Linked DNA regions of Homo sapiens. The gene in region 4 interacts genetically with the main gene of each other region. Each region holds a gene or a part of one and is shown on either strand. Other genes may lie near its edges.

What was found.
Region 1: changes in FARSA (region 4) and PSMD4 together harm fitness less than expected from each alone (positive genetic interaction), as found in Homo sapiens cells (one large-scale study listed by BioGRID).
Region 2: changes in FARSA (region 4) and TRMT5 together harm fitness more than expected from each alone (negative genetic interaction), as found in Homo sapiens cells (one large-scale study listed by BioGRID).
Region 3: changes in FARSA (region 4) and ASCC3 together harm fitness less than expected from each alone (positive genetic interaction), as found in Homo sapiens cells (one large-scale study listed by BioGRID).
Region 5: changes in FARSA (region 4) and FIP1L1 together harm fitness more than expected from each alone (negative genetic interaction), as found in Homo sapiens cells (one large-scale study listed by BioGRID).

What each region holds. Positions count from the first base shown.
Region 1 is NC_000001.11:151,262,855-151,268,791, reverse strand, and holds the end of PSMD4 (26S proteasome non-ATPase regulatory subunit 4), read right to left. Parts: intron 4,879-5,937; coding exon 4,764-4,878; intron 3,961-4,763; coding exon 3,874-3,960; intron 3,627-3,873; coding exon 3,558-3,626; intron 3,399-3,557; coding exon 3,183-3,398; intron 2,789-3,182; coding exon 2,680-2,788; coding exon of another isoform or gene 2,671-2,679; intron 2,485-2,670; coding exon 2,353-2,484; intron 2,273-2,352; coding exon 2,205-2,272; intron 1,620-2,204; coding exon 1,449-1,619; 3' UTR 1,313-1,448; downstream 1-1,312. UniProt on the Homo sapiens protein: Component of the 26S proteasome, a multiprotein complex involved in the ATP-dependent degradation of ubiquitinated proteins.
Region 2 is NC_000014.9:60,969,895-60,976,085, reverse strand, and holds the end of TRMT5 (tRNA (guanine(37)-N(1))-methyltransferase), read left to right. Parts: coding exon 1-611; intron 612-891; coding exon 892-977; 3' UTR 978-4,645; downstream 4,646-6,191. UniProt on the Homo sapiens protein: Involved in mitochondrial tRNA methylation. Specifically methylates the N1 position of guanosine-37 in various tRNAs. Methylation is not dependent on the nature of the nucleoside 5' of the target nucleoside.
Region 3 is NC_000006.12:100,873,046-100,879,236, forward strand, and holds part of ASCC3 (activating signal cointegrator 1 complex subunit 3), read right to left. Parts: intron 1-6,191. UniProt on the Homo sapiens protein: ATPase involved both in DNA repair and rescue of stalled ribosomes. 3'-5' DNA helicase involved in repair of alkylated DNA: promotes DNA unwinding to generate single-stranded substrate needed for ALKBH3, enabling ALKBH3 to process alkylated N3-methylcytosine (3mC) within double-stranded regions.
Region 4 is NC_000019.10:12,922,214-12,928,404, reverse strand, and holds the end of FARSA (phenylalanine--tRNA ligase alpha subunit), read left to right. Parts: coding exon 1-63; intron 64-3,230; coding exon 3,231-3,315; intron 3,316-3,401; coding exon 3,402-3,501; intron 3,502-3,597; coding exon 3,598-3,766; intron 3,767-3,878; coding exon 3,879-3,956; intron 3,957-4,139; coding exon 4,140-4,254; intron 4,255-5,518; coding exon 5,519-5,657; 3' UTR 5,658-5,926; downstream 5,927-6,191.
Region 5 is NC_000004.12:53,456,062-53,462,474, reverse strand, and holds the end of FIP1L1 (pre-mRNA 3'-end-processing factor FIP1), read right to left. Parts: intron 3,823-6,413; coding exon 3,685-3,822; intron 3,175-3,684; exon of another isoform or gene 3,174-3,174; coding exon 3,026-3,173; coding exon of another isoform or gene 2,947-3,025; 3' UTR 1,613-2,946; downstream 1-1,612. Other genes in the region: LNX1 (E3 ubiquitin-protein ligase LNX), read left to right, coding at 882-1,040, 1,433-1,568.

The DNA.
Region 1 (5,937 bases), on a different chromosome or scaffold from region 4:
GTTGCAGTGAGCCAAGACAGTGCCACTGCACTCCAGCCTGTGCGACAGACTCCATCTCAAAAAAAAAAAAAAAAAATTAGCTGGGCGTGGTAGTGTGTGCCTTAGTCCCAGCTATGCAGGAGGCTGAGGCAGGAGGATCCTTTAGGCTAGGAGGTTGAGGCTACAGTGAGCTATGATCACACCACTGCACCCCAGCCTGGGTGACAGAGCACAGACTTTGTTTAAAATAAATAAAAATATATATATATATTTTTTAATTTTTTATTTTTTGAGAGTCTCCCTCTGTCGCCCAGGCTGGAATGCAGTGGCATGATCTCAGCTCACTGCAACCTCCGCCTCCTGGGTTCAAGCAATTCTCCTGCCTCAGCCTCCTGAGTAGCTGGAATTACAGGCGTGTGCCACCACACCCGGCTAATTTTTTTTCTATTTTTAGTAGAGACGGGGTTTCACCATATTGGTCAGGCTGGTCTCAAACTCCTGACCTTGTGATCTGCCCACCTCGGCCTCCCAAAGTGCTGGGATTACAGGTGTGAGCCACCGCACCTGGCTGAAAAAAAAAAAAACTTTAAAAAAAATTATAAAGGGAATAGATGTTCCTTGTAAAATAATATTTAAACCGTATAATATAAAGTCTCAAGGTAAGGTTACTTGTAGAGTGGATTTTATGCATGTACACTGAGAGGAAAACGCCAGCAGGGTGTTTAGGACAGCAGAGACTCAGGAGACAGCATAACTGATGCAGGGAGGTGCTGGCAGGAGGGAGGGAGCCAGAACTTCCTGCCTCACGGCCTTGACTCTCTGTAAAGATGTCAGGCTTCTGTTGAGAGTGATCGGGGAGTAGAGGAAGGTATAGTAGTTGCTACAAGGAACTGACTTGCAGGGCTGAGCAGAGTCACTGAAGGCAGCTGACCAATGGGAAACTACTGTTTGGTGGTGATTCAACTCCTGGCGAGACAGGTCTGAGACAAGTTTGGATTTTGATCCTGGTTCTGCCTCTTCATTAGCTAAATATCCTTGGCCAAATAACCTAAACTTGCTGAACCTCAGAAGTCCACATGAAAAAACTGAAAAGGTTGAGTATCATTCCATGCTTGGGGTTCAGCTGTGTGAGTGCAGAGTAAAAGTTATTGGCAAGAAGGTGGTTTAAATAAGGTCTTCGTTCATTAGAAATGGAAACCTGGCTCCTGGGCCTGTAATCCCAGCACGTTAGGAGGCCCAGACAGGTGGAAACAGAGACATAGAGAACTCAACAAGGAAGGTTCTCCTTCAGGCCAGGGACTCCTCCCCTCTCTCACACTCAAAACCATCAATATTTGAAGCAAAAAAGGAAAAAAAGTTGCCAAGCTTTATTTAGGCTGTAATGGTTACAGATAACACACATCTAACCCTATATTCCGTGCTTCCCATGCAGTCCCCTAAGCAGACTCAGCTACCCTTTCCCTCCAGTCTCACTTCTTGTCTTCCTCCTTCTTGTCCTTCTTGCCGTCCTTGGTGGCCTGGGAGGCCAGGGAGCCCATAGCATTTCGAATGGCTTCATTGTTGGGATCCACACCTGGGAGGTTCTCTAGGACACTCTGAAGGAACTCGGGGTCCTGCATCACGTCGTAATCATCCTCCTCCTGCAAACAGGCAGTGTGAGCTCAAGGGAGGGTATGGAGCGGCAGGAAGTAAGCAGGTGTTAAGGACAGGAGCATGCCGCTGCCAGAGGCCCCCTGCCTTCTGACTGTGTGGGGATCTGGGCACCTCTGGTCGACGTAAGGAAAGGACAAGTCAGCAAAATCCTTTATACAGCATGAATGCAGTTATTACTAACCAAATAGAGGGGCCTGCTGAGAACTCTGTTAATTGAGCTCTGAGGAGAAAAACAGATGCCATCACATTGAGGTTTCCTGCTCTCAAGACACCCAGTTCTCCTTTTTCTTTTTCCCAGACCCGCTTTTTTCCCTCCTGGGAAGACATCCTAGAGAACTGCCCAGGCTGCTCCCACCAGCAAGAAAGGAAAATTACAGAACAAGAGGACATTTCTCCAACTCTGACCATTAGCATTGCTACCTTAGCAAGGTTTACATGTAAGAAATGCAAATCCATGTGTTTCCCTCTGCTCCTCAAAGGACTTAGCTATGGTAGAAATACTCCCAGCCCCAGAGGGATGAGGATCTAAATTCAAGGACTTTAAACCTGATGGGGGCAGGGTTGGGTCTCACCTTGGCTGGCTCAGATGTGTCCATAGCTGAGCTGGCATCAATGTCTGCTGATTCCGCCTGGCCAAACTCTGAGGAAGAGAGGTCAGTCTGTTCAGTTACACTTCCTCACCCCAACCTCTGCCTAGGCACCACCCAGGCTCTGGCTCACCTGCTCCCTGCAGGGACATCTGCATGGCATAAGCAATCTGCTCTTCCTCAGTCATACTGCTTAGGTCAGGAAGCCCAGTGCGGCCAAACTCTTGCTGGCTGATGGTCATCTTCAGCAGGGCATCGTCTGAGTCTGGGAAAAGGAAAAGAGGAGCAGGGTAGAATTGGTGCCATATCCACACAGGCCAGCCTCCAAGGCCATTCCTAGCCCAGCCCTCCCACATATTCCTACCCTGTCAGACCTCCACACTCTCCCTGCAGTGCCTACACCCAGCTTTCAATGTTTAGCATCCCGCAGTCCCAGGACTTCGGATTCCACCTCTTTCACCTTCAGTCCCAGTCGTAGCAATCCCGGCCTCAGCAGCAGAAGCTGCAGCTGCCCGCCGGGCCTCCTCCTCCTGCCGCTGCCGCTGCTCTTCCATAGATACACGAAGGGCCTGGTGAAGGGCAGGGCATAATCAGGGCTCCCCTGCCCTCACTCCTACAGGGAGCTGGGAAAGTCAGTTGGGGTGTGGGAAAGGAACATAAAGGGGCAGCTTCTGGTTTATCACACAGAGAAGAAGCTGGAGGGATAAGCAGTGGTACGGGATTAAAAAGTAAGGACTTGGGAGAAGCCTCGGTTTTCATCAGAAGTGAACAAGAAAGCATCTGACACTGGTGCCCCTAGAGATCAGACAGCATTATAGGGAAGAGGCGGCAAAAGGAGGTCTTGGAAAATGAGTGATTGGTAGTGTCTAGGACTATCCAGCCTGATAGAAGCTCTGTGATGTGTGTGCCAGAAGAGAACAAAGAGGGACCTTTGGACTCTACCTGGGGTCAACATTTGCTCACCAAGGCCAGCTCAGGATCAGCACTGGGATCTACTCCAAATTCAAAGTCACTGGCACCAAGACCCAGCATGGCACCACCTTCACCAGCCAAAATCGGAGAACTGATGAGAGCATCAGCCAAACTGGGCCCAGGAGGCACTGTCACCAGATGAGAACCGGTTCCATCTTTGCCATTCAACGTGTTTACAAAGGCTGTCAGCTTTTCTGTGTTCACCTCCTGGGGAGGAAAGAACACATGATGCCCTTCTTCAGGCCTTGCTCCCTGTTCTTTCCCATTTCTGCACTACTCTGCCACAGTACCCGCACTCCTCAGGGTTAAGGACCATTCTGTTTATGACCAAATTAAGTCAATGCCCTCCAATCAGTCCCTACTCACCTCTTCCCCAAAATTGATAATGTCAACATTTACTTTCTCCTTCTTGAGGCGTTTAGCCAGTTTCACCAGCTGGGAAGAAGGGGAGAAAAATCAAGAAATCTGTTCCATACTCGAGGGGGGGAAAGGACCCGCCGCATAAAAGCATACAGAAATCTATTGACCTCCCCAAGGTCCTCCAACAGAATCACTGAATTCTCCACATTCACCTTTCCCCAAAGTGATGAGCCTGATGCCTCTGCCAGGTTCTCCTGAGGGCTGGAAGACCTCAGTCCCAAACATGGGCTCCCCACATTCCCCAGCTGCCACTTGGACTCACATCCTTCTCATTGTCCTCCACTGGGCTTCCCACAAAGGCAATGATGCGCATCTTGTGATTCTTGCCTTGTCGGTGCTTCAGAGCCAGCTTGTAAAGGGAGAGGAAGTTCTCAGAGTTAACCAGAGGAATCACTCAGCTCTTTCCTCTGTCACTCGGTTCCCTTTTTCTTACAGTTTCTTTGTACCTGAAGTACACCATCTACCATCACGTTCACACAAGATTTAACACCCCCACCTCCTCCCTTTTTGCTATGACTCTCTGTGCATAAAGAAGGGAGGTTAATTCTCTTTCTCTCTTTTTTTTTTTTTGAGATGGAGTCTCGCTCTGTCGCCCAGTCTGGAGTGCAGTGGCGTGATCTCAGTTCACTGCAACCTCCACCTCCCGGGTTCCAGCGATTATCCTGCCTCAGCCTTCCTAGTACTGGCTAATTTTTATATTTTCAGTAGAGATGGGGTTTCACCACGTTGGCCAGATTGGTCTCGAACTCGTGACGTCAGGTGATCTGCCCGTGTTAGCCTCCCAAAGTGCTGGGATTACAGGTGTGAGCCACCGCGCCCGGCCTTTTTTTTTTTTTTTTTAGAGAAACAGGGTCTCCCTATGTGCCCAGGCTGGTCTTGAACTGCTAGCCTTCAGCAATCCTCCTCCCCTGGCCTCCCAAAGTGATGGGATTACAGGCATGAACTACCACGCCCAGCCTTAATTCTCAATTCTAGGGATTTTTCCCTTCACAACCCTCAACTACCCTGGGATTCATCCCCCATATCCTTTCTACTCCAAGTTAGCTTTCTCTTGCTCTGGTCCTAGCTCAGGATTCCAGGGGAGAAATGAGTATGATGGAGGCAGGACCTCAGAGCAGGGAGGAAAGGTCCAGGGAACCCAGTAGGACTCACATGGGCCACGCGGATGCCCGTGCAGAAGGTGATCTTGCCCTTGGGTTGGACAGTATGTAGCTTGGACAGGATACGGCCAGTGTCTGGGGTGAGTGTGGTCAGCACTTCACAGTCACTGGGATGTAGGAAAAGCATTTCAGTGAATTCAGGTCAGCACAAGTACCTCTAAACTGTGTCTAACTTTTATTTATTTATTTTTTAGACGGAGTCTCACTCTGTCACCCAGGCTGGAGTGCGTGGCGTGATCTCGGGTCACTGCAAGCTCCGCCTCCCGGGTTCACGCCATTCTCCTGCCTCAGACTCCCAAGTAGCTGGGACTACGGGCACCCACTACCACGCCTGGCTAATTTTTTGTATTTTTTTTAGTAGAGACGGGGTTTCACTGTGTTAGCCAGGATGGTCTCGATCTCCTGACCTCGTAATCCGCCCACCTTGGCCTTCCAAAGTGCTGGGATTACAGGCGTGAGCCACCGCACCTGGCCTGTGTCTGACTTTTCTTTAAAGACCTGGATAATAACCATTATTTCTATTCTAATTGTAATCTCTATTCTTCTTTTTTATTTTTTGAGACAGAGTCTCGCTCTGTCACCCAGGCTGGCGTGCAGTGGCGAATCTCAGCTCACTGCAACCTCCGCCTCCCGGGTTCAAGTAATTCTCGTGCATCAGCCTCCTGAGTAGCTGGGATTACAGATCTACACCACCACGCCCGGCTAATTTTTGTATTTTTAGTAGAGACGGGGTTTTGCCATGTTGGTCAGGCTGGTCTCGAAATCCTGACCTCAAGTGATCCGTCTGCCTTGGCCTCCCAGAATGCAGGGATTACAGGCGTGAGCCACTGTGCTTGGCCTCTATTCTTCTCAATCAAACATCTAGTATTTAATGGAAACCAAGCACAGAAATAATTAAGTGGCTGGCTTTGTAAGAAAGCTGCCCTCTACTTCCAAATATTTTCCCCTAACTCCTTTTAAAGGCTCACAGGGCCCTGAGAATCCACCAAAATAACGATGCTAATTTGTATCTCTCCTGTCCTCTCCACCTCCAGACCCATTCTCCTAGCTAACAGTATGTACACTGGAGTGGGAGGCTACTCATTTAAGAATTATCAGTTCCTAAAACAAAACACTTTCAGGGTAAAAGGATGAGTGATATATGCCCAGGGGCTCTGATCCAAAAA
Region 2 (6,191 bases), on a different chromosome or scaffold from region 4:
AGTCTATTGGAATCCTCGTCTGTCTACAGAACACAGCCGTATCACAGAACTTCTCAAACCTGGGGATGTCCTATTTGATGTTTTTGCTGGGGTTGGGCCCTTTGCCATTCCAGTAGCAAAGAAAAACTGCACTGTATTTGCCAATGATCTCAATCCTGAATCTCATAAATGGCTGTTGTACAACTGTAAATTAAATAAAGTGGACCAAAAGGTGAAAGTCTTCAACTTGGATGGGAAAGACTTCCTCCAAGGACCAGTCAAAGAAGAGTTAATGCAGCTGCTGGGTCTGTCAAAAGAAAGAAAACCCTCTGTGCACGTTGTCATGAACTTGCCAGCAAAAGCTATAGAGTTTCTTAGTGCTTTCAAGTGGCTTTTAGATGGGCAGCCATGCAGCAGTGAGTTCCTTCCCATAGTGCATTGTTATAGCTTTTCCAAAGATGCTAACCCTGCTGAGGATGTTCGGCAAAGGGCTGGAGCTGTGTTAGGCATTTCTCTGGAGGCATGCAGTTCAGTTCACCTGGTAAGAAATGTGGCCCCAAACAAGGAAATGCTGTGCATCACGTTTCAGATTCCTGCCTCTGTCCTCTACAAGAACCAGACCAGAAATCCAGGTGAGCAGTTTCTGGGAAATTAAATGTAAACCTTGCCATTCAATTGTAACTAATTCCTCCCAGTTTTACAAATTTTAATGCAGTATTAGTTCAGTCTAATAGAAAGCTACTGTGTTAGTTCAGTCTAATAGAAGGCTATTTCATTAAAATAGTAAATCTGCAAGAATGTTATTTCATGTTTAAGTTGACTAGATTAAAAATGCCTATATTGTTTGTTTTTTTAAGAGTATTTTCAACTGTTAATATCTTACCTAAAATAGGTTTTCTGGATTTATTACAGAGAATCATGAAGATCCACCTCTTAAAAGGCAGAGGACGGCTGAAGCCTTTTCAGACGAAAAAACACAAATTGTTTCAAACACTTAATTGGAAATGTTTTCTCCATCTCCCTACCAGACTTACATGTAGTGAAATAGAATTTGTATTATTTAATAAAATTTTAGGGTTTGGTTTTTACTATTGAACCCTTGTACTTTGCCTTATTTTACAAATTGAGGATTACCAATTAAACTTTAACTGAACTAAGGCTACCAAATACATTCCCTGTTATCTAAATTATAACATACAATTATTTTATAACAAAATATATCTAATTTTTATTGGATAAATATGAATAAATATTTTCTCTCAGGGAAAATAATTTTTGAAAGTAGGGTGATTGAGTACTAACTAGGAAGGTATTAACACCACTTTGTAGTTGTCCTTTACGTAACTACTCCTTTACTGCCAATTAACTATCACCATAAAAGTAATAAAAAATGAAATTATTTAGAACGGGGCAGGCAAACTACATCCTGCAGGCCAAATCTGTCCCACCACCTGTTTTCATATGGCCTGTGGCCTAATAATGTTCTTACGTTTTCCATTGGTTGAAAAATAATCAAAAGAACATTTTGTGACGTGAAAATTTTATGACATCTATTATGTATCAGTTTTAAAAATTAGAATTGTATGAAATTAAGAGTTTCAGAGTTCATAAAGTTTGATTGGAACATACCATGCTCATTTGTTTACATATCATCTGCAGCTGTTTTTTGTTTTTAATATGGAACGCTTCACGAATTTGCATGTCATCCTTGCGCAGGGACCATTCTGATCTTCTCTGTACCATTCCAGTTTTTTAGTATATGTGCTGCTGAAGTGAGGACTGCAGCTGCTTTCTTGAACAATAGCAGAGTTGAGTGGTTGCAACACACACTGAATGTGACTGTCATCACTTCACACTGCTGTTTGACACATCACAAATCACTGATGTGGTTGTAACGACAGCATTTTGAGTGCCATGTATATCACATGAACCCACATTTTATTTTTTATTACCAGAGCATATCTATTATAGCAAAACAAGAAAAGTGGACTTTGTTGTTATTTTTAAAGTACAGTAGGGTGTGAATTATTTTGATGTTGAATTAGACGACAAAGCATCTATATAGCTAAGCTAAAAGAATAACCATTGACATTACCAGACAAACCACTCATCACAGTATTCCCAACTCACAGGCAAGCAACTGTTAGAAAAATTAGAAAATTTAAAATGGAAATAACAAAGCAGAATTTCTTCACAAAATGAAAATGAGGCTGCAACAACAGTAAGTCTCTAAGTCAATCATTTGTTAGCCAAGCAAAGCCATTTATTGATGGTGTGAATTAATTATGTTTGGATGCAGCAGCTGAATATATCCAGAGAAAATAAACTTAAGATTACTGGCCTTTGGCAAGAACAGTTGCTTAAAGAGTTAAGGACATTGAAAGCGACATAAATAGTCACTTTAAAAAGGAAATGATTCTGGATGGTTCTTTGACTCTATTTTTATTTTTACTTAGAGACAGGGTCTTGCTCTGTTGCCCAGGCTGGAGTGTAGAGACACAGTTACACCTCAATGTAACCTTGAACTCCTAGGCTTGAGATCTTCCCATCTCGGCTTCCCAATGTGTGAAGGTTACAGGTGTGAGCCCTTATATGTGGCCCTCGTGAATGGTTTAGCACTATCCCCTTGGTGGTGTCCTTAAGATAATGAGTTATGAGATCTTGTTGTTTCAAAGTATGTGGCACTCGCCCCCCACACTCTCTTGCTCCTGCCTTCGCCATGTGAAGTGCCTTCTCCTATTTTGCCTTCTACCATGAGTAAAAGCTTCCTGAGGCTTCCCCAGAAGCAGATGCCAGTGCTATGCTTCCTATAGCCTGGAGAACTGTGAGCCAATTATACCTCTTTTCTTATAAATTACCCAGTATCAAGTATTTCTTTATAGCAATGCAAGAATGGCCTAAAACACAAGGCAAAACAACTTTGATATGGTACAGTCATTTTGACAATCGATATTTGAATCACAATATTTGATGACAATATCCTTACACATTTGTCATACTATCAAAGAGAAAGAAACAAGATTTCCATTCCCACAAATTTTAGTGAGTATATTTTCTGAGTTCAGCATTTTTAGGGACCTAGGTGCAAGTGCAAAGGAAATTTCCCTGTTTCAAAATCTATTTAACTGCAATTGAGGTGATTCAACCTAATTTTCAGTAAGAAGTGATTAAAATAATGACATGCTAAAAGGCAAATTTCAAGGGAAGAAATGTAAAAGAATTTTACAAATGCTTTCCAAGTGATGAATATGCTCAGTTAATTTCATATGCTCCTGGATTGATAGCAGTATTTGGCAATACCTATCTGTATGAGAAGACATTTTTAAAGATGAAATGTGTAAAATCTTATTACCATTAGTATTAATGGTTAATGATGGTTAATGATAACCATTAATAGGCAATCATTTACAACTGATTTTGATCACAGGGAACACTTACTTAGAACCCTGATTAGAGGCAATGTTATTCTCACCAAAAAAGGCATTACAAAAAATTGGGCTATATTTTGAATTTTGTCAATTAAAAAAGCGTGGGAGCAGTGTGAAGGAGAAGAGGCAAGAACGACCCCTGGACCGACCAAAGCCCGCGCGCTGCTGCGTCCCACACCCGGTGCCCACATCCCGCCGCCGCCGCCGCCGCCATGCCCAAGAGAAAGACTGAAGGGGATGCTAAAGGAGATAAAGCCAAGGTGAAGGATGAATCACAGAGAAGATCTGCGAGGTTGTCTGCTAAACCTGCTCCTCCAAAGCCAGAGCCCAAGCCTAAAAAGGCCCCTGCAAAGAAGGGAGAGAAGGTACCCAAAGGGAAAAAGAGAAAAGCTGATGCTGGCAAGGAGCGGGAAGGTGCTGGAGATCCCAAGTGAAGTGTGTGCATTTTTTATAACTGTACTTCTGGTGACTGTACAGTTTGAAATATTCTTTATCAAGTTTTATAAAAATGCAGAATTTTGTTTTACTTTTTTTAAGCTATGTTGTTAGCACACAGAACACTTCATTGTTGTTTTTGGGGGAAGGGGTATGTGTCACTAATAGAATATCTCTGAAGCTGGATTGATACGGGGAAAACATCTTTCCCTTCTAGTTTTGAGAGACTTCCTCTTGGCTCCCAGGAGGAGGGATTTCCTGACTTTGACACACATGGCCACCTTGGCACAAAAGCCTTGTGGTATGGAAAAACAAATTCGTTTTTATGTCTTCTTTTCCCTTTCCATCTTTCAGCATAGACTTAATCCCCTTAAGCCCAGACATCTGTTGGGACCTGACCCCCGGTCATTGGTTACCAGTGTGTCTGGCAATCTGGACTTTCCAGTGATGCCACTGAGATGGCACCTGTCAAAAGAGCAGTGGTTCCATTTCTAGATTATGGATCTTCGGATAAATTCTGCCATTTTCATTTCACTTCCTGAAAGTCAGGGTTGGCTTGTGAAAAGTTGTTAAACAACATGCTAAATGTGAAATGTTAACCCTCTAAACTTTCCCTGTTCAGAGCATCAGATGAGGACTTCATTGGGTTTTATAGCGGCTGATTTTTGGTAGTCCATTGAAGAAGAGAGTTTGAAAGTTGTATACTGTTAATGACTGTCTGCCCATGTCCTGCCTGAAATACCATGATTGTTTATGGAAAGTATCTTTAATAAAGCTGGATACAGTTTGAAAGAAAAAAAAAAGTGTGGCAATTTGTTTTAGCTTGTTCTGTAAGTACCTACATAATATCCACGATTTTGCTTGTTACCCTGCAAAGCCTAAAATATTTACTATCTGGCCCTACAGAAAATGTTTAAGAACCCTAATCTAGATCATTAATTACAAATTCAAATGCCTTCAGAAGTCTGGCAGGTCATGTAAACAAATGAAGGCAATAAATGATAAGCAGTATAGGGATGTAATGAACTGGAACACTCATTCTTACTTAATTCAAATTGTTTTGAAACAGCCCAAGTATTGTACACTGATGTCCTAGGTTATAAAGTATGTGTACAAATGATGTTCTTATTTATACATGTAAAGTGGTAAGACTCTTGTCTCCATTTAGTTACTCTGGACAAAATATGCAATATGTAATTGTAAAGAAAACAGAACTAGATGTATCTATTAACGTTTTAACTTCCCCCTTTCAGAGTGGATAAGTGATTATTCATTATTTAAATCTAGGTCCACCCTAAACTTTCAGATGTGATACCTAGTAAATGAATTCCTGATGAATCTACTAGAAAATGACAGCTAGAAAGCTGGAAAGCTCATTAGATACAATTTTTAATTTTGTTAACTTTTTGACAGGTTTTCTACCACCTTAATTGGATTTTAAAATAATTATCTGACAACCTGTTGAGAGCCTAAAGACAACTTCTAAGAGAAGCATAGTTGAAATATTCATTGAATCAAATTAAGGAATACTAAGTAATCATGTATACTAACTATGATGTAAATGTATTCTGTACCATTAATATCTGCTTAAGAGGGAGTATAGTTATTAGTAAAATCATTTTCTACATCATGAATTTCTCAGAACTTCTCTTAGGACATCAACAAGATCATTTAGTTGATGTCATTTATATCTCATAAAAGATCTAGATACTTGATCTGTAGAACCTCCTGGAAGTCTTATGAAGTTCGACTACCAGGACTAGTTTTAGCACAGCAGTTGTTTGACAGTCATCTCTAGAGCATGGCTTCTGGAGTCTGGCTGCCTGAGTTCAAATCCCAGCTCTGCTATTTTTAAGTTATATGACTGTTGGCAACTTACCTAACCACTGTCTCAGCTTCCTCATCTGTTAAAATGGGGAAAATACTAGTAGAACTGTTTTGAGGATTACGTAATACACAAAGCATGAAGCAGTGCCTGGGACACAGGTAATACAGTAGTTGTTAATTATTACTTCTGTACTCATAAAATACTTGAAGACTTAACTCATGTAGATGAAAGATATGTACAGCCTTTGTCTCTAAGAGTAAATCACTTGGATGGTAGGGGATAAGCACATCAATTTAGAATATTTCTGTTGTTTGGTAAATTCAGTGAATTCACTAAACCTCAGTGAATTGTCACTAAGTTATTTTTCACCATTCCCTTTGATCAAATAAGGTCAGTTAACTTCTAAATTTGGCCTATTGAACAAAGTACAGCAATAGCAACTACAAAATATTTACAAATGTATAAAGGTTTTGGAATTTATTTGCCAAACCAGGTGCATGCAATTTCCACAATAAGGCAGG
Region 3 (6,191 bases), on a different chromosome or scaffold from region 4:
GATTTACCTGAAAAAGAATTCAGAAGGCCAGTTATTAAGCTAATCAAGGAAGCACCAGAGAAAGGCAAAGCCCAATTTATGGAAATTTAAATAAACAATAAATGAAGGGAGAAATCTTCAGTGACATAGACAACATAAATAAGAAACGAAACTTCAGGAAACAATGGACACATTTATAGAAATGCAAAATCCTCTGGAAAGTCTCAGCAATAAAATTGAACAAGCAGATCTTCAGAGCTCGAAGACAAGGTTTTCTAATTAACCCAATCCAACAAAGGCAAATAAAAAAGAATAAGAAAATATGAACAAAGCCCCCAAGAGGTCTGGGATTATGTTAAATTACCAAACCTAAGAATAGTCAGCGTTCCTGAGGAAGAAGAGAAATCTAAACGTTTGGAAAACATATTTGGGGGAATAATCTAAGAAAACTCTCCCAGCCTTGCTAGAGACCTAGACAATCAAATACAAGACATTCAAAGAACACCTGGGAAATTCATCACAAAAAGATCATCGCCTAGGCACACTGTCATCAGGTTATCTAAAGTTAATATGAAGGAAGGAATCTTATGAGCTGTGAGGCAGAAGCACCAGGTAACCTTATAAAGGAAAACCTATCACATTAACAGCAGATTTCTCAGCAGAAACTCTACAAGCTAGAAGGGATTGGAGCCCTATCTTCAGCCTCCTTAAACAAAACAATTATCAGCCAAGAATTTAGTATCCAGCAAAACTAAGCTTCATAAATGAAGGGATGGTACAGTCTTTTTAGGCAAACAAATGCTCAGAACACGCCACTACCAAGCCAGCACTACAAAAACTGCTAAAAAGAGCTCTAAATCTTGAAACAAATCCTGGAAACACATCAAGTAAAGCTCCCTGAGATCTTATCAAAATAATCAGCATGAAATTATGCTTGTTAAGGGAATGAAGCAAAGCACATTACCAGATTTGCTATTTTTATTTGATGTGTTTTCTTCCCCAGGTTGAATGAGCAACACTAAAAATGTAACAGCTCATTAGTTCATTGTTACCTATAAATCATTTATACACAAATATTTGAGTTTCTCCTATCTACTAGGATCTGGGCTAGGCACTGGATGTTAATGAAGTTTACAGTTCTTCAAAACTCATTGCATTTTAGGCTGGGCGCGGTGGCTCACACCTGTAATCCCAGCACTTTGGGAGGCCGAGGCAGGCGGATCACGAGGTCAAGAGATTGAGACCATCCTGGCCAACATGGTGAAACCCCGTCTCTACTAAAAATACAGAAATTAGTTGGGCGTGGTGGTGCGCACCTGTAGTCCCAGCTACTAAGGAGGCTGAGGCAGGAGAATCACTTCAACCCGGGAGGCAGAGGTTGCAGTGAGCAGAGATCGCACCATTGCATTCCAGCCTGGCAACAGAGCAAGACTCTGTCTCAAAAAAAAAAAAAAAAAAAAAACAACTCATTGTATTTTGTACCAGGAAAAAGATTCCCTTTAAGTTTTATTTGAAATGTATAAAGGTCAAATTGAGAAAACAAATTTTAAATATTATGTTATTCATTCACTAAGCAAATATTTATAGATCACCCACCATATATTAGATATTTTATGAGGCTCTAGAGATTAAAAAAAGAAAAACATTTTGATATGATTGCACTTGCCCTCAATGATGAGCTTACAGTATGGTTGGGAAGAAAGAAAAATAGTTGCAATAATTATGCAGCTATAACTGTAGGAAGACAGGGAAGGAGCATCTAAAGGGGTGGGAGGGCACTAGATATAAAGAAGGAAGCTGAGCTTGAGCTGAGACTTAAAGGACCTAGACAAGGTTATTACAAGAGGTAAACTATGAGGGGGAAAGCCAAAATAACAGACTTAATTACTTTTAAAACCCCTACAGAATGTGCATTTGGAAACTGATGAAATAAGACCTAAAAATGTAAGCAGAGACCAAACAACATGTCTCAAATTAGGCACTTTTCATTCTGATAATCAGAATCACTGAAAAAATACTAACATGTTACAGAAAAATTACTCAGATTTACATGTGGTGAACTGTCAAGGTGGGGTCAAACAGGACACAGGCAAACCAGTTGGGAAGTTATTTCAATAAACCAACTGAAAGACAGAGAGGATAGAATTAAGCCAGGGAAACACATAAAAGGATGGATTTAGGAGATCAGTATACTTGGAAGACAGAATCAATGTGGAATAGGATTTAAAGAAGGAGAAAGGAGCAGGACACTCAAATTTCTGGCTTAGGAAATGTTGAAGAGTGGAGGAGTCTATATGTATAGAGGGCATCAGGAAGAGGAATGATAATTCTGTTTTGGAAAACTTTAATTATGGGCTATCAAGTGGGGCATATGGTTTTGGATTTCCTATCAGAGGTCTGGGCTGGAAATCCAGAATTTCATGTTATCACTTCATCATAGTTAAAACCATGGATGAACATAATATTGTCTAAGTCAAATATACATAAGCCCATGGACCCTCTTCCTAAGAAAACAGACATACATACATATAAACAACATTTTGTACTCCATTTCAAAAGCTGCATGAATGCCCATTCATGCACTCCACCCCTAAAGGCCTCTTGGAAGTAGACAGTAGAGAGTTAAGAACAGAGTTCTAAGAAAGTGATCCACAAATCAGTTGTCATATGGAAAAGTGATATGACAACAGAAAAGAAAGTTTCAAATGACATGATACAGTCCACTGTACTCAGCCACTCTGCGGTCCTAGATGACTAGCACACCTAGTTTCCAAAAATGGTAGAAGCTAAATCTCAGTGAGTTGAAGGATAAACGCAAAGGGAGAAAATAGGGAAAAAACAAACAAACAAACAAAAAACCCTACAAATGGGTACATGCTATTCTTTCAAGAAAATGAGAAAGAAAAGGAGAAAAAGTAGGAAATACTGAAATAATGTGGTTTAAGAGTTTCTGAAAATAAAGGATAGAGTTGATCATGATTTTATCATAATCAGGGGAGAGCAAAGAGAGAAGGAAAAGTTGAGCAATCAGGAGAAAGACTGTGACTGATGGAGTAGGGTCTCTGAGAATGCAGGCGAGAATGACAACAAAAGCATAGGTCTAGAGAGACTTGGATAGATGAAGGAGTACGGAAGGAAGGATGAGTGGAAGTGCATATGGTTATAACATGGTTAAGCAGAGGGTGAATGAGGAGAGAAAAACATGGTAAAAGGGAGTTCCACCAAAATGACTCTGATTTTATTTGAGATATGCTAAGACTGTTCAAACAGGTGATGAGGTGGGATTTTTTCTAACACAGAGGCAAAAGTCTGAACTTACCACCCACAATAATAGAAGAAATATTTTTCAGGTAGCAATGAATGCTCAGCTCATACTGCAAACAATTTAAGGTGGCAATAATCTGGCATAGGAACAAAGGTTGGTGTGAACCAGGGTTAAGGTTTTGTAACACAGAGGCAGTGGGACAATGAAGCCTAAATGATAAGGGTTATTAAGTGCTTAACTTTAGGCCTAGATGAAAGGAAAAGATGTTCAACTAGGAGGTCTTAAAGATGAATCATAACATTCATAGTTAAAATTTCTGGTAAGATCACAGTGAATAAGGATTAAGAAAAACTGGCCTACATATCAATTTTTACCTTACTAATTTTTACTCCACATTTAATATGGTCCACTAAATGACAAATATATAAATGAAAAATTCTGTTAATAATAAATATTTAATGCCCCAGAACAAATATAATTTCTAAAGGATTGAAACCCTAAAAGCCTACTTCTGTTCGTCAGAAGTACTGGCTGTGGCTATCTGAACAAATCTTTAAATTGTTAATTAAACATACGTACAGGTAAAAAGAAAGTCTTAAAAATGTAACTGTCCTTTTTTACATTCCAAATAAGGAGAAAACTAAACTGATGGTAGCATATTTCCTTTTGCAAGATGATATTAACCAATAATCAGTGAGCTAGAATTCCAGTACACACTATTCTGAAGTACTACATTTAAAATTGTAATGTTTATTCTTCTTAAACCAAACCTGTGTTTCTAAACTCTAAAGATGGTCTGACTGCTTGATAGCAACTTTAGGAAAAGATAGTTACTGTATTTTTTCGTTATAAAAATATGAAAAGATCTCCAAAACAGCCAAACTATATTTCCTAATAAGTTTAAAGTCAGCACTTAGTTACTGGCAATTATGGATACTAGGGAATTATTAAAGGGACAAAAATAGTCAAAGTGATATACTGCAGATTAAGGGATAAAAACACTGACATGAAGGAGTAGGTTGTAAATGGAGTAAAATTAGAATTTAAGATTTCAGTACTTAAAATAGAATCTTGTACCCACAAACCACACCTTGAAAAATGAACAGTGAATAAATATTAAACAGTGAATAAGAATATTTATATTTTATTGTGCCTTTTTTAAAAATTGAGTTGTGATATTGTTAACATTAGCAAGATCAGAACTCAGAAAATAACCATCGTCGACACATATTTATAATCCTCCATTATGCGATTTCAAAAGGGGGTGATTTTTTCATGATAAATCCTAAAGATAATTTAATTTCTTACTTGTATTAAACCTTATTACCATCAATTGGTTCATACAGCAGAGTCTAGGCACATTTAACTTTCTTGAATCTACCAAACACTGTAGGCCAAAAAAAGGAAGGCAGAGACAGACAAAAACAATAATTACTAGAGATTCTGCTTACCATTTCAGGTATTGAATATCTGCTCCAGAGTGAATGGGGGATGGGCAACAAGAATCTTGCTCTTTTAGTCTGTTTCAATCACCACATGCATCTCAAAATGTGAGCATCTTGCTGCATTGCATGATTCTAGTTTTTAACACTTTTTCTCTTTTTTTAAAAAACATACAAGGTGGTGACCAAACACAGAGCAACTTTTTCACTGGGAGTTCATCTAAAGAAACTGTGATACATTCCAAGTCAGGATGAAAAACATGGCTGTGTAGGACATGCTGAGAGACAGCATGTTATGCCAACTTGATGTCCTTTTAAGGGATTCTCAAAGGTAATCTTAGCTATTCACAGTTTCCACCTAACAAGTTCACTTTAGATGCTAACTCATTCTTAAGCAAGAAGCAATTGCTCCTGAATAGTTCTCAATCAAGTTAGGAAACACATCTGAAGCATGCAGAACAGAGAAAGCATGACAAAAATAATAAAACACATAAACACTTTTCACACAATACAAAATATATAATGGTTAAAAACAACCAAATTTCTATGGGGCTCTTATTCTCTAACTTATCCTCTAACTAGGTTTCCCATTCAAAGGTGGGGGAAAAAAATCCTGGACAGGCTCATAACTATAAAGCAGATTAGTCTTTATATTCAGAATATTCCCCCCCAAAGTTGTGTTAATTTTACTTTTAGCACAGGGTAAGGAAGGCTTTTCCTTTAAATGTCCTTGGGAAAACAAATAAAAAAAAATATTTTAACACCAGATAAGGACAAGCATAGTCAGAAAGAAAATTCCAGAATATCCCACAAAGATGAAACGAGCACAAGAAAACGTGGAACAGACCCAGCACATATTAGGCAGTATGTATTATAACTCTTCCCACGAAAGTCCAGTGGAAAAGGGCCTAGCACAGATTATGTCTGAAAGACAAAATTCTCATTCCACCCTAATCCATGAGCCTCTGGGAGGCAGACTGAAGGAATTTACGCCTGCCCTCTTGTGAGAGTGGAAAAAACTCAAACCGTTTTTCCTCTGCTCTCACACGACAACCATCAACACAGAAGATGTCTGTGACAAAATGTGTATGAGTTTCTCCCCATGCACCAAGCAAACAATCACTTCTGCAGCAGACATCAGATGAGTGTTCTCCAATTCATTTCTGACACTATCTAGAGATACTGTCATATCCCACAGATTGAAGGCCCAATCCCACAAGACTGCCCACCACTTCTGATGCCAATTACAAGCTCCAGGCTTTTTTATCTGTACTTCTGACTGACCAGCTATAAATTGGGGATTACATGACCCCCCTCCTTGGGTTCGGTTAATTTGCTAGAGTGGTTCACAGAACTCAGGGAAACACGTTTACCAATTTATTATAAAGGATATTACAAAGGATACAGATGAACAGATACATAGGATAGGGTAATTTATAAGGGAAGGGAATTTCCATGCAGAACTTCCAAGTACTTCCTGGGCACACCACCTCAAGGAATCTCCA
Region 4 (6,191 bases):
ACGCCCTCTTCCAGCCCCAGCAGCACCCAGCCCGTGACCAGCACGACACCTTCTTCCTTCGAGGTGGGTCAGCCCCTAGGGCCTCCCTGAGACATGAGAGACACCAGGCCACGGCGGAGCCTTTACAGGATGGGCATCCCATTTGATCAAATTAGGTCTAGAACTGGGCATGGTGGTGTGCACCTGTAGTCCGGCTATTTGGGAGGCCAAGGCAGGAGGATTGCATGAGCCCAGGAGTTCAAATCCAGCTCAGGCAACATAGGGAAGAATCTACCTCTAAAAAAATTAATTGAGTTAAATTAAAGTCCATCCTTGTTGGATGTGTCAAGCTCTGTTCTCATTATGCCACCTGCAGTCTTTTTTTTTTTTTTTTTTTTTTTTGAGACAGGGTCTCACTCTGTCGCCCAAGCTGGAGTGTGCAGTGGCATGATCTTGGCTCGCTGCAAACTTTGCCTCCCAGGTTCAAGCGATTCTCCTGCCTCAGCCTCCCGAGTAGCTGGGATTACAGGTGCATACCACCATGCCCAGCTAATTTTTGTATTTTTAGTAGAGATGGAGTTTTGCCATGTTGGCCAGGGTGGTCTCAAACTCCAGTCTGCCTCGGCCTCCCAAAGTGCTGGGATTACAGGCGTGAGCCACCGCACCTGGCTTTTTTTTTTTTTTTTTTTTTTTTTTGAGACAGTCTCATTCTGTCGCCCAAGCTAGAGTGCAGTGGCACGATCTCAGCTCACTGCAATTTCCACCTCCTGGGTTCAAGCGATTCTCCTGCCTCAGCCTCCTGAGTAGCTGGGATTACAGGCACCCGCCACCACGCTCGGCTAATTTTTGTGTTTTTAATAGAGATGGGGTTTGCCATGTTGGCCAGGCTGGTCTGGAACTCCTGACCTCAAGTGATACTCCCGCCTCAGCCTCCCAAAGTGCTAGGATTACAGGCGTGAGCACCACGCCTAGCCCAAAATTAATGAATTTTTGTTTTGTTTTGTTCTCACTATGTTGCCCAGGCTGGTCTCAAACTCCTGATCTCAAACAGTTTTGCCTCAGCCTCCCAAAGTGCTGGGATTACAGGCATGAGCCCCCACACCCTGCCTGCCCCCATGTCTTCTTTGGGCATTCCAGGCCGTGCACACCTCAGGGCCTTTGCTTATGTTCCGTCTTTAGCCAAGAGCTGTTTTCTCCCAGATCTTCAAGGCAGGCTGCAGCCTCAAATCTCTGCTCACGTGTCACCAGAGACAGGCCAGCCTAACACTCCCGGGCTCACCCCGAGTTCTACAGAAGCCCTTCTCCCCTAGTGTTCATTCTTCTGTCCCATTTCTTTCTTTCATTGCCCTTAGCACTGTCTGAAATGGAATGACTTCCCACAATGGGGTGGCCTTCCTGACCAAGAGGGCAGTTGAGGTCATTGGGTGCCGGCTTACCTGGCCAGAGGAGCAACATCATTCTTGTCATTATTGTCATAGCACCCAAAACTTACTAAGCACTCATCACATACTAGCCACTATTCTAATCTTCCTGCCAACTACTGGAAGCAGTACTGTTACCCCTTTTTACAAAGAAGGAAACTTGGCCAGCCTCAGTGGGTATAATCCCACTGTTTGGGAGGGCAAGGGAGGAGGATCGCTTGAGCCCAGGAGTTTGAGAACAGCCTAAGCAACATAGAAAGACCCATCTGTACAAATAAAATTAGCTGGGCATAGTAGTGCACGCCTGTAGTTGCAGCTACTCGGGAGGCTGAGGTGAAGGATTGCTTGAGCCTGGGAGTTTGAGGCTGCAGTGAGCTATGATTGCATCACTGCACTGCAGGCCAAGCAACAGAGCAAGACTTTGTCTCTTTAGGCCGGGCGCGGTGGCTCACGCCTGTAATCCCAGCACTTTGGGAGGCTGAGACGGGCGGATCGCGAGGTCAGGAGATCAAGACCATCCTGGATAACACAGTGAAACCCCGTCTCTACCAAAAATACAAAAACAATTAGCCAGGCATAGTGGCGGGCGCCTGTAGTCCCAGCTACTCGGGAGGCTGAGGCAGGAGAATGGTGTGAACCCTGGAGGCGGAGCTGGCAGTTAGCCGAGATCATGCCACTGCACTCCAGCCTGGGTGACTGAGCGAGACTCCGTCTAAAAAAAAAAAAAATTTTGTCCCTTTAAAAAAAAAAAATAGGCCGGGCGCGGTGGCTCACGCCTGTAATTCCAGCACTTTGGGAGGCCACGGTGGGTGGATCGAGACCATCCTGGCCAACATGGTGAAATCCCATCTCTACTAAAAATACAAAAATTAGCTGGGCATGGTGGCGTGTGCCTGTAGTCCCATCTATTCAGGAGGCTGAGGCAGGAGAATCACTCGAACCTGGGAGGCAGAGGTTGCAGTGAGCCGAGATCGCGCCACTGCACTCCAGCCTGGGCGACAGAGCGAGACTCCGTCTCAAAAAAAAAGAAAAAATAAAAAGGTCGGGCGCGGTGGCATGATCCCAGCACTTTGGGAGGCCCAGGCAGGCGGATCACTTGAAGTCAGGAGTTCGAGACCAGCCTGGCCAACATGGTGAAACCCCACGTCTACCAAATATAAAAAATTAGCTGTGTGTGGTGGTGCACTTCTGTAATCCCAGCTACTTGGGAGGCTGAGGCAGGAGAATTGCTTGAACCTGGGAGGAGGAGGTTGCAGTGAGCCAAGATCATGCCACTGCACTCCAGCCTGGGCAACAGAGCAAGACTCCATCTCAAAATACATACATACATACGTACATACATAAATAAAGCCCAGGTGCAGTGGCTCATGCCTGTAATCCCAACACTGGGAGGCCGAGGTGGGTGGATCACCTGAGATCAGGAGTTCGAGACCACCCTGACCAACATGGCGAAACCCCATCTCTACTAAAAATACAAAAATTTCCCGGGTGTGGTGGCAGGCACCTGTAATCCCAGCTACTTGGGAGGCTGAATCAGGAGAATTGCTTGAACTTGGGAGGTGGAGGTTGCAGTGAGCCAAGATTGAGCCATTGTACTTCAGCTGGGCCAACTGAACAAGACTCTGTCTCAAAAAAAAAGAACCCAAAAAAGCCACACACAAATGAGAAAACTGAGGCACGAGAATCACTTGAACCTGGGAGGCAGAGGTTGCAGTAAGCCCAGATTGCACCACCGCACTCCAGCCTGGACAACAGTGAGACCCTGTCTGAAAAAAAAAAAGGGGTGGGAAATGCTCGTTGACTGACCTGATGTTGCTCTGTCCTGCCCAGATCCAGCGGAGGCCCTGCAGCTCCCAATGGACTATGTCCAGCGGGTCAAGCGGACCCACTCTCAGGGCGGCTACGGCTCACAGGGGTGAGGCAGGACTTACCTGGTATGGAAGGGAAGGAGGCTGGGGACCCCTGGGCCATTGCATGGACTTCCCACCTTCCCTCCTGAAGGTACAAGTATAACTGGAAGCTGGACGAGGCCCGGAAAAACCTACTGCGAACCCACACCACATCAGCCAGCGCCCGTGCGCTCTACCGCCTTGCCCAGAAGGTGCGGTTGGCCCAGGCGGGGGCCCCAGTGGGGAGAGGGTGCTGTCAAAGGGACCTTCTGACCCATACCTGGGCCTGGCTCGGTTGTCACCCCTAGAAGCCCTTCACTCCGGTCAAGTACTTCTCCATCGACCGCGTATTCCGGAATGAGACCCTGGACGCCACGCACCTGGCTGAGTTCCACCAGATCGAGGGCGTGGTGGCGGATCATGGTCTCACCTTGGGCCACCTCATGGGCGTTCTGCGGGAGTTCTTCACCAAGCTGGGTGAGCAGGGGGGCAGGGGTGGGCCATGGTGGTGAGGCAGCGGGCAGGTGTGTTGATCACCAGCATTATCCTCCAAACCCCTGCTCTCCTGCCCGCCCCCCACTTCCTGCAGGTATCACGCAACTCCGCTTCAAGCCAGCCTACAACCCATACACAGAGCCCAGCATGGAGGTGTTCAGCTACCACCAAGGTCAGGGTAGGCCCTGGTACTGGGGTGGGAGGGAGGTCTCAGGCTACTATGGTTTGGCCTGGGTCCCCCCATTGCCATGCCTGTACCCCACCTCCCAAGCTCACCACCTAGACCCAGAACCTGTACCAGCAGTGCCCAGAAACTCAACACGCACTGCCCGTCTTTTCTGTCCTGCCTCTGCAGGCCTGAAGAAGTGGGTGGAGGTCGGAAACTCGGGGGTCTTCCGTCCAGAGATGCTGCTGCCCATGGGGCTTCCCGAGAACGTGTCGGTCATTGCCTGGGGCCTCTCCCTGGAGCGGTAAGTGCCCAAGTGGAAACTCGGGGTGTCCAGCTGCCTCAAATAACTCTCCAGGTATAGGGGCCTGCGTGGTTTCAGCACCACCCATTCATTCATCCAATGGACAAAACTTTCATCGTGAGTACAAACTGAATGCTCAGCCCCGTGCTGTGAACATGACAGCTTATGTCCCTCCCTCTGAATCTGGGGTCCCAGTGGAGCGAGAAGGATGATAACTAGCAAGACCAACAAGTACATCAGGCCAGGCGTGGTAGCTCATGCCTGTCATCCCAGTGCTGTGGGAGGCCAAGGCAGGAGGATCGCCTGAGCCAGGAGTTTGAGATCAGCCTGGGCAATAGAGCAAGTCTCCGCCTCTACAAAGAATAAAAACAGGCCAGGCGTGGTGGCACATGCCTGTAATCCAAGCACTGTGGGTGGCTGAAGCAGGTGCATCACCTGAGGACAGGAGTTCGAGGCCAGCCTGGCCAACATGGCGAAACCTCATCTCTACTAAAAATATAAAAATTAGCCTGGCGTGGTAGCAGGTGCCTGTAATCCCAGCTACTTAGGAGGCTGAGGCAGGAGAATCGTTTGAACCCAGGAGGCAGAGGTTGCAGTGAGCCAAGATCATGCCACTGCACTCTATTCTAGTCTAGACAACAGAGTGTGACTCTGTCTCCCGTCTCTACTAAAACTACAAAAATTAGCCAGGCACTGTTGCGTGCGTCTGTAGTCCTAGTCCTAGGTACTCAGGAGGCTGAGGTATGAGAATCACTTGAACCTGGGAGGCGGAGGTTGCAGTGAGCTGAGATTACGCCACTGCACTCCACCCTAGGTTACAGAGTGAGACTCTGTTTCAAAAAAACAAATGCACTCAGCAAAAGAAGACAGAAGTGTGTACCAGGGCAGTAAGTGGTATAGGGAGGGCTAAGGCAACTACGTGGTCAGTGAAGGCATCATGGAGGAAGAAGTGCCACCTAAGCAAAATCTAGAGGTAGATAAAGAGGTAAACCATGAGAGTATCTGGGGAAGGGTGTCCCAGGTAGTGGTCACAGTCAGTTCAAAGGCCCAGAGGTGGGAATGTGCTTTTTGTATTAGGAGAAGAGTGAGGAGGCTGGTGTGGCTGAAGGCGGAGGGTGAGAGGTGATAGAGCAGTTGGCGCAGGGCCCTGTGGGTCATGGGGAGAACTTGAACTTTTCCTCTGAAGAAGATGGGAGCCATGGAAATCTGAGCAGAAGGGTGCACGTGCTGACCTCATGATAAACTCTGTTCCCTCCCCCACAAGCCCAACGATGATCAAATATGGCATCAACAATATCCGGGAGCTGGTGGGCCACAAGGTGAACCTGCAGATGGTGTATGACAGTCCCCTGTGCCGCCTGGATGCCGAGCCGAGGCCCCCTCCCACACAGGAGGCTGCGTGACATGGGCCACTCTAGGACAGGTCATCCTCCCCGAGTCCCTGCTGCTGCGCTCCTTTGCATCCCTGGCCAGTGACCTTGTATTTATGAGGCCTCTGTGAGGCCAGCCCCCACCTTCCTCTTTCCCACCTGTCCCAGGACCAGAATCCCAGGGACAGAGGACTGGGTAGCAGGTTCCTTCTGTTGTCCTGTGTGGTGTGTCTACTGTGAGGGTGGGCCCTGAGGAGACCTGTGGGCCACCTATTGTCTAATAAAGTGGGCAGTTGCCCCCATCTGGTGGCTTTCCTTAGGGGTGAGGGGTCTTGTTGGGTCCCCCTAGCTCAGTGTGCCACTTGATGGTCAAAATTCTGGGTACTGGGCTGGGCGAGGTGGCCCGCGTCTGTAATCGCAGCACTTTGGGAGGCTGAGGCGGGCGGGTCACGAGGCCAGGCGATCGAGACCATCCTGGCTAACAGGGTGAAACCCCGTCTCTACTAAAAATACAAAAAAAAAAAAAAAAAGTATGGGTACTGAGCCAGGCACAGTGGCTCACTTCTG
Region 5 (6,413 bases), on a different chromosome or scaffold from region 4:
GCCAATTTCCTTTCAAACCAATTCCCGGACTACAGCTACAAATGTGGTCAACAACGTCATCCTGGAGTAAAATTCAGCTCCTGACACACACTTCTATGGCAATTATAACATAGTTAACACTTGGCCTGTACCTATATGAACACTGATCCATTGGGGGCCACTGAATAAAAATTTCTTCAATCTCATTTGCTATTTTAGTTGAGGATTCTAATTTACAGAAGAGCTGGGCCTTTCCTTCTCCCATTCCTTTTATAACTTCCTATCCAGTTTCCTGCAGTTTGTTTTTCCTCCTATTTGAATTGTTCTTATAATCTTTAAACGTTTCTGTTTCCATTCACTTTATGCGTGCATGCTTCTCTATGACTTATCAAACGTAGCACTGGGTGTAAAGTGGTATTTTTCCAAGGTCAAAAAAAGTATACGAATTCATTTATTAGGATTAGGCTTAAACTGCTTTCATTGAGATTATTCAAAGGATTTTTGCCCTCATTAAAATTATATCAAGTAAATAAAAATATGACATCCATAAGTGTGTTTGTTCACCAATAAGGATTTAGGTTTATCCAACTTTTTGCTAATACATATTCAAGCATTGTCTTAAGTTAAAAATATGATTATCATTCCCAGTAGATGTGTAACAGAACACAATAGGGCTGTCAGTTTTTTAAGGATATTCAAAATTATGGAAAACAGGTTCAATTACAAAAAGCCAGCTAACAGCACAAAGGTCACCAAGGTATGATACAATTTTGAGTGGGACCTATGCAGTGGTACTTAGCCATTAAAAATGCCAACAAAAGGAATGGAGGATGAGTCACAGTAAGTATTCCCTTAACTGTGAAACTTAAATATGCATGTACACTGATTACATTCTATTTCAGGTGCTTGTATAACTGTAAAGATATTGTATTACGAAGAAACACAGCTGGAAGTCTGGGCTTCTGCATTGTAGGAGGTTATGAAGAATACAATGGAAACAAACCTTTTTTCATCAAATCCATTGTTGAAGGAACACCAGCATACAATGATGGAAGAATTAGGTAATAATAATGACTAATCAAAAATACTTGTATTAAATGTTGTTTCATAAATGCCAAAGCTTGGCCCCATTTGAGATAAGGCATGTATTTATTATACTTTGTGGGGATTAAAAGTATGTACGTAGCATTCAACTTCTGAGAAATCCAAAATAATTACACATATTCTTGGTCCCATACTACAACTCCCCATACTTTTAGCATTCCTTCTAACACAAGCTGAATGGATAGTGAGTTTGGAGAATGTAAATAAGAGGCAAGAAATATCTCAATTAGAAGTTAACATAATTAAAATGGTCAGATGTAGCAAAATCTAGCACCACTAAGATAAACTTGCATTAACTTCAGCAACGAATTAAAATACTAATCATATCTTGTTTTGTTTTTTTTTTTAGATGTGGTGATATTCTTCTTGCTGTCAATGGTAGAAGTACATCAGGAATGATACATGCTTGCTTGGCAAGACTGCTGAAAGAACTTAAAGGAAGAATTACTCTAACTATTGTTTCTTGGCCTGGCACTTTTTTATAGAATCAATGATGGGTCAGAGGAAAACAGAAAAATCACAAATAGGCTAAGAAGTTGAAACACTATATTTATCTTGTCAGTTTTTATATTTAAAGAAAGAATACATTGTAAAAATGTCAGGAAAAGTATGATCATCTAATGAAAGCCAGTTACACCTCAGAAAATATGATTCCAAAAAAATTAAAACTACTAGTTTTTTTTCAGTGTGGAGGATTTCTCATTACTCTACAACATTGTTTATATTTTTTCTATTCAATAAAAAGCCCTAAAACAACTAAAATGATTTGTATACCCCACTGAATTCAAGCTGATTTAAATTTAAAATTTGGTATATGCTGAAGTCTGCCAAGGGTACATTATGGCCATTTTTAATTTACAGCTAAAATATTTTTTAAAATGCATTGCTGAGAAACGTTGCTTTCATCAAACAAGAATAAATATTTTTCAGAAGTTATAGTTGTCTTTTAGTATGTGATACTAATTAAGATTACTTTTGTATTATCACTATTTAAAAGATCCTAGTAATTTATTCTTTCAAATACCATGTTATTTGTTACCATCACCGATGAATACCTCCTAGGCTTATCCCTAAAAATGCTCGCTCAGAGAATTAATTATAAACTTGTTTTGTTTTTAGTAAGAAATGGCTAAAGCTCTTTTTTTCCACAATCGTTAGTAACTGTATAAAAACTCATGCTGCTCCACCAGTGGGCCTTGGAAAATGCATCAAGAAGGCCAAACCAGCTTGACCCTGGCTCACAGACATGGTCATGAGGCGATTTAAATTTGTGCCACAATGAAGAGTGTGTGTACACATGCCTCCTAGAAACTACACTATGGGTAATTAATTAATTTATTTCATAGAGGCCACCCAGATGCCTTATAGGTTTTATTAATTTGGATATGAAAGTGTACCCCATTTGGTTTCACCAGGAACCCAAATTTAGAATATTGAAAAGCCATCAAAAAGTTGTGATATCAAAAATGTATGAGTCTCTTAATATACTAAGCAAGAGTGTCACAGCAGTAATGATAAAGACTAGTTTTAATCTCAAGCCTTAGAGGGGCCCTTTGTTGCCTTTTGTGATGCAGCCTCTTAAGAGAGTGGTGTTTGATTAACAAAAAAACTGTGGCCCAAGTGGAACCCTTGACCTTTTCTCAGATAATCTGTGTATGTACACAGCTAACACAGCTCTTTAGATTCCCTGTTAAGTGACTCATTCACATTCCTTTCTTGGATATAAAGTCATTGCTGTCTTTTTATTTTTGAAATAGTACAAGACAAAGATTTTTAACTTAACATGAAAAATTCACTCTTTTATTTTGGAAAAAAAGTTAACTTTTCATACTAACAAACAGAACAAGATTTAAGGTAAATTTCTTAAACATTATCCAGAAAAATAACAAGATTTATAGTATCTACTTCTGGTACTAATATACACAAAAGGCCAAAACCATGCCTATTCTGCAGGTGTAGCTTCGGTGCTCTCCTGTTCAGGGGCAGGCTCACTGCCCGCTTCTTTTCCTTCTTTGCTTCTTTTAGATTTTTTGTGTTTGTGTCTCCTGTGACTATCTCCTTCTTCACTTTCATGGCGACGTCTACTATTACTGGAAAAAAAAAAAAAAAAAAAAGGTGTGTTCTGTTTAAATACACAATCAGTGACAAAAATCCAATCACTCTAAGGAAATTCTCAATATAACACTGGGTTTAAAATAATCTAATGCATTTTCTCATAAATATAATGTGAGGAATAATCAGTTTTATGTGACTTTTATGCAGGGATTGTATTTATTTTATAGGGCCATCTTCACTGATATTATCTCAGATTCCCAGTGCCTATACACAGCTTCTGAAATGCATATTATAATATACAGTAACAAATTAGAAACAGGCATTAACTCAAAACCGGAAATACTGTATAGGGTTGATTTTTGGCAAACAATAGGTATTTTGTTTAATGCTTTTTTAAAAAAATTTGAGACAAGGCCCTGAATTTTTCTTTAATGAAACCAAGCAAGACTGGTTCATAGGCCAAAATTTCCCCTCTTCCAATGCGACAATGTAGTAAGTCAAAATCTCTCACATACTATTGGTTCACTATTTTATTAAAGAGCAAACCTTCGAGAAGACTTATGTCTGGTTTCCTCTTTCTCCCTGTGTCGTCTTTCTCTATGTCGTTCTTCTTTTTCTCGACTTGCTCTGTGACGCTCATAACCTCTTTCTGCATATTCCCTGTATCTGTATCGTTCTTCATCGCTGAAATTGAAATAGAAATGTTTTCTTGACAACTGGACCATTAATTCTGAATGGATTCAAACTGTAAAAGAGATGTGATCTGCAGTCCAAATCCAAAATCCTCACATTAGCATCTTTTATAACATTAGTGAGGAAGAAATATTCGTTGAATTGAGAGGAAAATAATGCTTGTTCTCAAAATAGCACTAGAGCTAAGAATATAAATATATAATAATTACACATGTTAAATGACCAATTTTGTTCTGTGCTTTCATAGCTGTTAAAAAGATTTAATATAACAATGCTTTGGTTTTTTCATTTCTTGAAAAAGTGAGATCTGCAACTGATTTAAATTGTTATCAGCTTTTAAAATTTTTGCTCCTTTTAGAATTAAAATAGTATTTGTATATCTCAGATTTCTAATCAATATTCTTGGAAAGTCTTGGACATACGTTTAACATTATAAAAATACACGACTCACAATTACTACAAAACAGAAAGCAAATAAGTTTTTAAACTTTAGGTTTATTACTAAATATTCATCAAATAGAGAAGTATAAAAATAAAGAACAGAGACATCAAAGCAACTTCTACAGCATCCATACAAAATGCAGATTGGACATACCTGCATTCTGACATCCTAATTACATCTGTGTGGGCAGGGGGGCTACATGGCTAATAATTTCAACTGCATAAATAGAAGCTGCATCTCCATTTTCTGATTTTGGATTGAATTACACAGACTGGTGAAACTGAGACTAATGGCTAGAGTTAGAGGGTGGTCTTTCTTTACCTCCCTAGACTTCTTTTCCTTTCATGTCCTTTAACTGACATTCTCTTTCCATCTTTCTCTTTATCCTTCAAGTCTCTTATTTCTTCCTTTTTCTTTTTTTATGTTTAGCATAGAAGTCAACACTTTCTACAACTTAACATCAGTAAATTCACTTAGAATAAAATAATCTTTTAGAAGAATATGCTGAAGAGCTTTGATTTCTAGAAGTGTTTAATATGAATTATGAAAGTAGTAATTTGTATGAAACATCAAGATGGTAAGGAATCTCAGGGTTTAACATAGTCAGGTGACAACTATAAGCCATGTTTTAAAAGACATGTCAGCCTGTGTTCTAGCAAAAGTAATGATTCATTAATGCTATGCTTAATGCCCAATTGTACTGCTGACCAAGTTATTATCTGTGATACATTAAAATTTTAGAATCTTATTTAAAAAAACAGAAAATGTATTAATATACACATTTGCACATATTTGTATATGTATTTCCACTATTTTTTTCTACCCATAAATATGTACTTTTGTATTTGGAGTGTGGAGGCATGTCACCTGAAAAGTAACATGCCATGCCAGTCAGTAGAGAGGAGCAGAAAGAGTACAAGTGGAGTACACACAGGATCACATCCTGATTTTGCCACTTACTAAATGAGTGACCGAGGCTATTACCTATTACCTCTCTAAACCTCGGTTTTCTCACCTGTAAAATTGCCAACAGTCTTTTTCAAGACTTCTTACAGAACTGACAACATTTATAAAGTGCTTGGTATGAGAGTAGGCACTCAATAAATGACAGTCCTTGGTGAATTTAATGCTTAATTTTTTCAGAAGCAGAACTTTTTAGTATCATGTCTTCAAGTAGAATAAACTAGCACCATAGGAAATAAATATAGTTAACTTCTCTCAAAAAATGAGGCTTTTCAATGACTCCAACTAGATTTACATAAAAATAGTTAAAGTCAATTATCTCATAATGTGTCATTTGTTAACTCTTTTTCCTCTTACCCTAAAACCAGCTCTTGTTGAACCTGGAGCCTTTAGATTCTGAAAGCAGCCCTGTGATGGGAACCTTATAACAGATGGTAGAAGATTGGGTCCTACACACAAAATATAAAGACCCTCCTCCTTCCATCCCCTTTTCTGATAAGTGGCTGAACCACAAAGGTTTCTCTGGACCTGGAAATTATTAGAGTTCATTTCAAACATCCTAGAATGACCAGCCTTCTTTCTGGCCCATAATTAAGCTCCCTAAAAAACAGAAGTTGAAACTGGCCTGTAATTTTCAAAACAATGGCCCTGTAATTTGTAAAGCAACATATACTACATGCCATACTGCTAAAATACCAGCCTTCAGAAACCTTTACTTATACTTCACTTGGATTTTCCAGAGTGTAATTTTTTCCTGGGATAATTCAGAACAACTCAAAATTCCTCCACTTTTTGCCTCTGTGGCCTTAAACATTTTAGTCAAATTTAGGTAAACATTGACTCCTAATGCCCTACAGTTCAGCAACCTGAATATCAAATGTGGTTTAAACATTAACACTTTTTAAGTTTCAATAAAAACTCAGTAATATCTGTGCATGTATTTGAAGCAGAAGAATTAGAGGATTTAGCCAAATCTTCTATAAACAATGTGTTATTTATGCAAAGAAAATTTATGAGTCCTGCTTGGCAAAGCAATTTATTTTACTCTTATTTCCTATCAAGTTTTGCATTAAGTTCCTTACTTATAAACATGTACATTCTAGAGACAGCAATGCTATCTCACATATATTCATTTCCACATTAGAAACAATTTGACTTTCTGGAAAGTAATGCCCTT